Linked DNA regions of Homo sapiens. The protein of the gene in region 1 purifies or fractionates together with the protein of each later gene. This does not show direct contact. Each region holds a gene or a part of one and is shown on either strand. Other genes may lie near its edges.

Region 1 (3,657 bases):
TATTACTTACATGACAATAATATTAGCTGTGCTTGAATGTTCCTTTAATAACTCATTTAACCTGATCTGCCGGTATGTCTGAAATGAAACAGGACAGTCATTCCTAGACCATGTGGAAATAAGAATTTAGCATGGTTCATAAAACTATAAGGAGACAAAAAGAAACTGAAATGAATTTTCGTGTAATAAAAATATCTGTTCTCTATTTTTATTTTTTTTAAAAATGCTTTCCACTAACCTCAAATAAATCTATTTTAAAGTAGAGTTCATTTATACAACTGACCCTCCTATATCAAATTAAAGTTCTTGGTTTTCATGTCTTTTATTATATAAAAGATTAATGAAAAGGAAGCAGAAGAGAATACCTTGGTCTTATAAAGTTCAAGCTCATTATCTGTTATTCGCCATGGTTCATCTTCTTTCATTTTATCTGCAATATCTTGCTCTTTATCATCTTCATGAAGTCTGTATGGCTCAATGATTTCCTCAAAAGCTATAATACTTTAAAAAACAGAAAGAATACTGACAACTAATCTTATTTTAAGTTACATAACAGGAAGATCTTAAATATTAAATTGTAACTTGCAAAGTTAGTGCCTCTCATTTATTACGCTCCTCTCCATACCCCAACCATAATAATCAGTTTGGCAATTTATTTCAAAAACAGCAATTTCTAGTCTCTCAAACTGATGAGAAAATTAGAACCCATATAGACAATACAGATTGTGCATCCCTAATCTGAAATCCAAAATGCTTCAAAATCTAAAACTTTCTAAGCACCAATACGATGTCTAATGGAAATGCTCAGTGGAACATTTTAAATTTCTGATTTTTGGATTAGGAATGCTAAACCAGCAGGTATAATGAAAATATTCCAAAATTTAAAAAAAAATCTGAAATCTGAAACACTTTTGGTTGATCCCAAGCATTTGGGATAAGGAATCTCCAACCTGTAATAAATTGCATTTTTAACTGCTAAAGCTGATCTCACTGTTATCTACCCCGCCTCCCCTTATGGCCATTTTCTCTCAGCCTAAATAAATTTTACCATAGTAGCTAACATGATCCCTTTGAGCAATAAGTCAAATTGTGTTACTACTCTGCTCAAAACACCCAAAGGCTTTCCCAGTTATCAATGAATAAAAGTGATGTAAAAAAATGTACTAGAACATTTTGAAGGGGAAAAGGGCAGACACTAAAAATTTAAGGAAATGCAAAATTAATTTCTACATCCAAAGATATTTAACAGTAAAATAACATGAATGGCATTCTAATCCTCTATGAACATGAAAAATATTTTTCAGTATCAAATCTAGTATGAAACACCCAGTATACACTGTGTTACAATAAAAGCAATCTCACCCTGATTACAACCTTACAAATTGTACCTTACTATTTTCTATCTAAAAGGAATTCTTTATATCAGCTTCATATTGATTCAACATTAATCTAAGAATTAAAATTATATCAGGTAAAATAAATACAAATATCATTATAACAACCTGTATATACCATTTTCAGGTGGAATATTCCAAAGTCTTTGCTAGAAGAATTCTGAATGCAACTATTGCAGGCAAATGTTTAGATTTTCCTATTTTAGCAATAAAACAAAACAGTGGAAAGTAATAGGTATGTAGAGCAGGGACTGAGTGGTTATAACGACTGTAGGCAGGGGCAATGGAAATGAACCACCTTTCAGAAATCACATGTAAAGCTGTAATTTAAATCCTCTCTGAATATTGAAAACTCTTTAGACTTTCTTTAATATCTGATATATGCATGCCAACTATCAATGCTAGATTTTTTAAAATATTGACTTCACATGTAACTAACAACAGGAAAAAAATCTCTGGGTTTTAATTAAGTTGAATCTGTGTCTGAGTAGGCCATCTATAAAGGGATCAGAAATTTGTAGAGTAACTTACTTTTCTTTCTTTGGTTTGGTATTGATATCTCCTAGAACCATGATATCAGAAAAGTCTATCCGGAACTTGCTAAGCAAAGTAGCCATCCTACAACAAAAATAAATAGAATTAAGATACAAGTATTTTCATTCTATATTGGGCTGAATCCATATATCTAAAAAGCATGATTTATAGAAAAAGTCAGTCTATCATATGCTAAACAATATCCATTTGAATTAATTCACACCATTCATTCACAAAGTAGACTTAAATTCACTGAGTACTTTACTTTCTGAGTAATCACTGAGTATTTTACTTTCTCTGAATCTCTCCTTAGCACTGAGTAATGGACAAAGACATTAATAATAAAATTTAAATGGAAGCTAATGTTTCTTAAGTTAATTTTAGTCAAACTATATTGATAAGTACATAAATTTCAGTAAAAACTAGTAGACAAATATTTAATTATTTTTGGATTATTCTTCCATCCAAGAACACTTATCTCAGGGCCCAAATATGACCTGTGGGCCATACTGAAGATATAGTTGATGGCAGATTAAGTTCATAGCATTTTGGGGAAAGAAGGAACTGGGACAGGATGTAGAAAAGGATCATCAACAAGCCTGATTTTCCAGTAAATACCTTTCTGAAGGCTTAGCTGGCAATGAAACATTGGTGGCAACAACAGAACAGGTGAAGTGCACATATATACAAAAAGCAATTAACAAAATGCAATTTTATTTGTAATAAAAATGTTTTTAAATTGAGATATGAGAAAACAGATCTGCTATAGGTTTGACTATTAAATTTATTATTAGTATTTCTTGCATAATTCACTATTTGAAATGAATAAACAGTTGAATTCCAGGATCTATCAATTAAGTGGCTACTATAAAACATGCTAAACAGGGCCCACAAAACTTAAATAAGACAATAAATATAATACCAGCCATAATGTGATGAGTGGTAGGTATAAAAGTATATTGTGATTCCAGAAGGAAACATAACAACTAGATGGGGGGGTAAGTGGGGGGAAAATAGGAAAGGCACTATGAAGAACTGAGCTGGGTTTTAAAGAATGCAGTATTTAAAGAGATAAAAGGAGAGGCAAGTGAAGAGCTATTTACAGGAGAGAGATGAGAGGAGGCAAAGGAGTAAAAGCCTGAAGTCACATGCATGTTTAGAGCATAGGGAAAAGTGTACTGAAACACTGGGGGAAACAGAAGAATAGAAAGGGAATGAGAGGACAGACTGTCAAGGGCCTTGACTGCTACATTATAACAATTAGATTTTCTATGGCAGGTAGCAGAGAAGTCGTTTAACTATTTTGGGTAGAGGAATCATATGGTCAAAACTCTGCTTTCTGAAAAATAAAACTGGGTTTCAATGCTTCTGAGTACCCATGTCTTACCTTTGACCCATAATGTGTACAATATACATATTAATTAGGTTGAAGATTATGCATATTATGTACTCTGTACAATATACATGTTACAGGTCAAAGACAAAACAAGAGTACTTAGAGAGCAGGAGAGAAATACTGAAACAAGAACTAGAATCGTGACAGTATAGATGGAAAGAATTGGATGGATGACAATGGCATCCTGCATTTTGTTGTCTAGAAGTCTACAACAAAATTTATCTCATATATAAATATGTAACGTTTGTGCATTTTCTCCCTGATTAAAAGAAAGAAGTTGCTTAACACTTTAATGTTACAAGTATTTAAGAAGGACCTTCTAAAATGCTAGTA
Region 2 (3,657 bases), on another chromosome or scaffold:
ATCTTGACCACAATAGTTAAACTTTACTGAGTCATCACAAGTTTATAGTATATTGAAAATTCTTGCAGGTTTTAATGCTGACACTGCAGAACGATCCTCCTTCTTTGGAAACTGGTGTTCAAGATAAAGAAATGCTGAAAAAATATGGAAAATCATTTAGAAAAATGATTTCATTGTGCCTTCAAAAAGATCCAGAAAAAAGGTAAAATATGAGAAAAAGTCTACTTTTCTCTCTAATAAAACATTGTGAGAAGTCTAAGAATCACATACTCATATGTACAGGAAATTATTTTCAAAAGAACTAAATATAAACTTTAAAAAAGTATACAGAGACCATTATACTGGATTGGAAATGAATTGATTTCTGCCTTCTTTGTAGTATACAGTGTACCCTAAATAGTTCAGCTTTTTCCTTGTTAATTTCTTACAAAGTTGTACATTGTGAATTCTGTATTAATAAATGCCAAGTTAGTGGAGAGATTTGTTTTTAATTTGCATTTAAAATTTATAAATGAATGTCTTAATGCCATTTACAGTATTAATAAAGGAAAGACACATAGAAAATTTATATTTAGTGTAATAATCATACTTATTTCCATGTTAGAAAGATATTTTAGTAAGTGGACCAAAAATTCAAATAGCTTCCTTATCAATGTTAGACAGATTGAATGACAAGTGAGCAAATAAATAAGAACATCCGATATGTGTAACTTCATGAATTAAGCAGAATCGTAGAATGTTGGGGATCATTGAGTACAACCTTTTATTTTTGAGGTCACTTGATACTTAGTCATAGGAGTAGGACTTGAATCTCAAAGTCCTGATTCCTAACTTAGGGCTCTGTTCCTTCTGAATCTTATCTGTCTGTTTCACATATATATTCCACTCAGCTTCTTAGCACTGAGTTCTTTAATTTTTGTTTCTCTAAAGATCATTAAAAGGGAAAGACTTTGATGTTCTTGATCACATCTCTAGTGTATGTAATAGGGTTTCAGAATTTATTGTTGGAAATATTGGAAAGGGTAAGAAAAACAGGTAGCAAAATTTATACCTGTGTTTTTATAATTTTTTTTTTTCTGTTTCTGAGTAAACAGTTAAAAAAGACAGGAAACACTTTTCTTTTATCAAATTAGTTGGTTAAAGGAACAAAATTATCCTGTTACAAATACCTAGAAATGCCAGATAAAATCTATCCAACTTAAAGATTCTCAGATGCCAGAAATAATGAGGAAGCCCTAAGTTAAAGAAGAAATATTGTGAACTAATCCCATGGCTGTTTTCAGTGGGTCACTATTCATTCTGGTAACCTACTGATTTGGATTTATAACTCCCATGTGAAAACTGGAAGTGAGATCTTGGGTCCACCCAGTGGGGAGTTTGAACTGAGATTCTTCTTAAAGCTAAGAACTTCAGATGTCAGTATCCTTAGTAAAAGGATAGACAAGAATAAAAATTGTCATCACCAAGAGACAACAAAAACCTCTCCTGAATAATCAAGCCCTTCAACCTGGACATTCCACAGGTTTAGAGTCTATACTCCCTATGTTATCCAGGAACCCACAGGATTAGAAAGTTAAAAAAGCTTTACCAAATCAGTTTTTATTTTTGACGGAAGTAGTCACAGAGCTGCACTGGAAGAACACTTTCAAACTCTAGCTCCCATTGGATTCCTGAACATAATGCCCCACTGTAATAAGGTCACAATCCAAAATTAAGAAACACACAGTGAAACAATGCATTATGAACTAGTTAGCAGACACAAGCAGAAGGATTAGTGCTCCAGAAGATTTAGGTAATGCAGTGAAAATCTGAAAAGATACAAAATTAAGTATATTGAAAATAATTAAAATTAGAAGAAATCAGACCCACAAGAGAAGACTGTGACTATGACAGAAGAACCAAATAGCAATGCCAGAAATGAAAAATACAGTGATTAATGTTTAAAACTTTCCATGAGTGTGAGCTGGACTTGTTGACTCACTTCTGATGAGTAGAGTATGAAAAAGGAAAAATAGCAACTTTACAATGCACCTCCTCTACCCAATGACCAAGGTTAACATCACTATTAATAATACATTGATAAGACTGATATGTGCCTCTTGATATGGTGCAATGAGAAGGGCATATATATAACCTGTGAGGTATTCTTCCTCCAAATCCGTAACTTCGGTCTATAATGAGAAAACATCAGACAAACCCAAATCGAGGAATATGCAGCAAGATACCTGACCAGCACTCTTCAAAACTGTCAAGGAAGAGAGACTAAGAAACTGTCACAGATTGGAGGAAATTAAGAAGACGTGAAGACGGAAAGCAAGAGTATCCTATACTAGATCCTGGGACAGAAAAAGGACATTAGTGGAAAAACTGGAGAAATGGAATGAAGTCTGTAGTTTAGTTAATAGTATTGTACCAGTGTTGATATTTTAGTTGATTTCTTTATTATTATACTGTGGTTATGTAAAAGGTTCACAATAGCAGAAGGTGGTGAATGGCATGTAGGAACTCTGTACTAGCTTTGCAGCTCTTCTGTAAGTCTAAAATTATTATAAAACTTTAAGAAAACTGGAAGCTATAGAAAATCTATTCCAGTTTGTAAACCAAAATTAAACTTTGTTTAGAACATTGCTAAGTTAAAATAACACGCACAATGGACTGGTTAAACAGAACAACCAATAAAACAAAAAAGAGATTATTTACTCATCAAGTACCAGGCACTGTGGTAAACACTTAACATATATTGTTTAATTCTCACAGTAATCCTTTGAGGATAGCACTGTTATTTTCTTTATTTTACAAATGAAGAAACTGAATCACAGAGAGGTTAAGTAACCTTCTCCAAAGTCACACAGCTAATAAATGGTGGAATCAGAATTCTGACCCATGCAATTGGACTAGAGTTAACCTGTTTTAATCAGACTACACTATACTGAGGAAATTGCTCAGAATGTGGCACAGAAAGATCAAAGAGGGAATATGAAAGAAATATTAACATTTGGAGGGTAGACTGAGAAGGTTCAGTATGTTTGTGTGTATGCACATCCACACACACACACACACACACACACACACACACACACACACAAATGTACGTATACATATACATGAACTTACCAGGAAAGACTAGAGAGAGTATAGGAGAAGCGATATTCAAAGAAATAATGGCTGAGAATTTTCGAGAGTTGATGAAAGACCTATATTCTCAGAGTAAAGAACCATCCCCCCAGAATTCCAAGCAGTGTCCCCCTTCTTCCACTTGTACAAGTTGCTGTGAAACTACTGGACACGAAGCAAAGACAAACTCCTACAGGCAACCTCGGGGAACAGATTACCTACTGAGGATTAGCAGGTAGACTTGACAGCTACTTCCCCAATAACACAACAGTTGAGGCCAGCGTTTAGTGAAATGCTCAGAGAAAATGCAGTCATGTGTCACTTAAAATGATGAGGATACATTCTGTAATATGTGTATTAGGCAGTTTTGTCATTGTTTGAACATCGTGGAGTGTACTTACACAAACTTTGATGGTACAGCCTACTGCATGCCTAGGCTATTTAGTGTAGCCTGTTGCTCTGACTACTGTCAGATACACAGTATATTGTTGGCCAAAGCATTAAGAGGCTCATGACTGTGACTTTAACCCAGAGTTCTCCAGC

The links.
Region 2: the proteins of SLC12A2 (region 1) and OXSR1 purify together in Homo sapiens (pull-down; one study listed by IntAct). This does not show direct contact.

The regions. Positions count from the first base shown.
Region 1 is NC_000005.10:128,181,210-128,184,866, reverse strand, and holds part of SLC12A2 (solute carrier family 12 member 2), read right to left. Parts: intron 2,013-3,657; coding exon 1,926-2,012; intron 502-1,925; coding exon 366-501; intron 145-365; exon of another isoform or gene 79-144; coding exon 11-78; intron 1-10. UniProt on the Homo sapiens protein: Cation-chloride cotransporter which mediates the electroneutral transport of chloride, potassium and/or sodium ions across the membrane. Plays a vital role in the regulation of ionic balance and cell volume.
Region 2 is NC_000003.12:38,224,503-38,228,159, forward strand, and holds part of OXSR1 (serine/threonine-protein kinase OSR1), read left to right. Parts: intron 1-68; coding exon 69-202; intron 203-3,657. UniProt on the Homo sapiens protein: Effector serine/threonine-protein kinase component of the WNK-SPAK/OSR1 kinase cascade, which is involved in various processes, such as ion transport, response to hypertonic stress and blood pressure.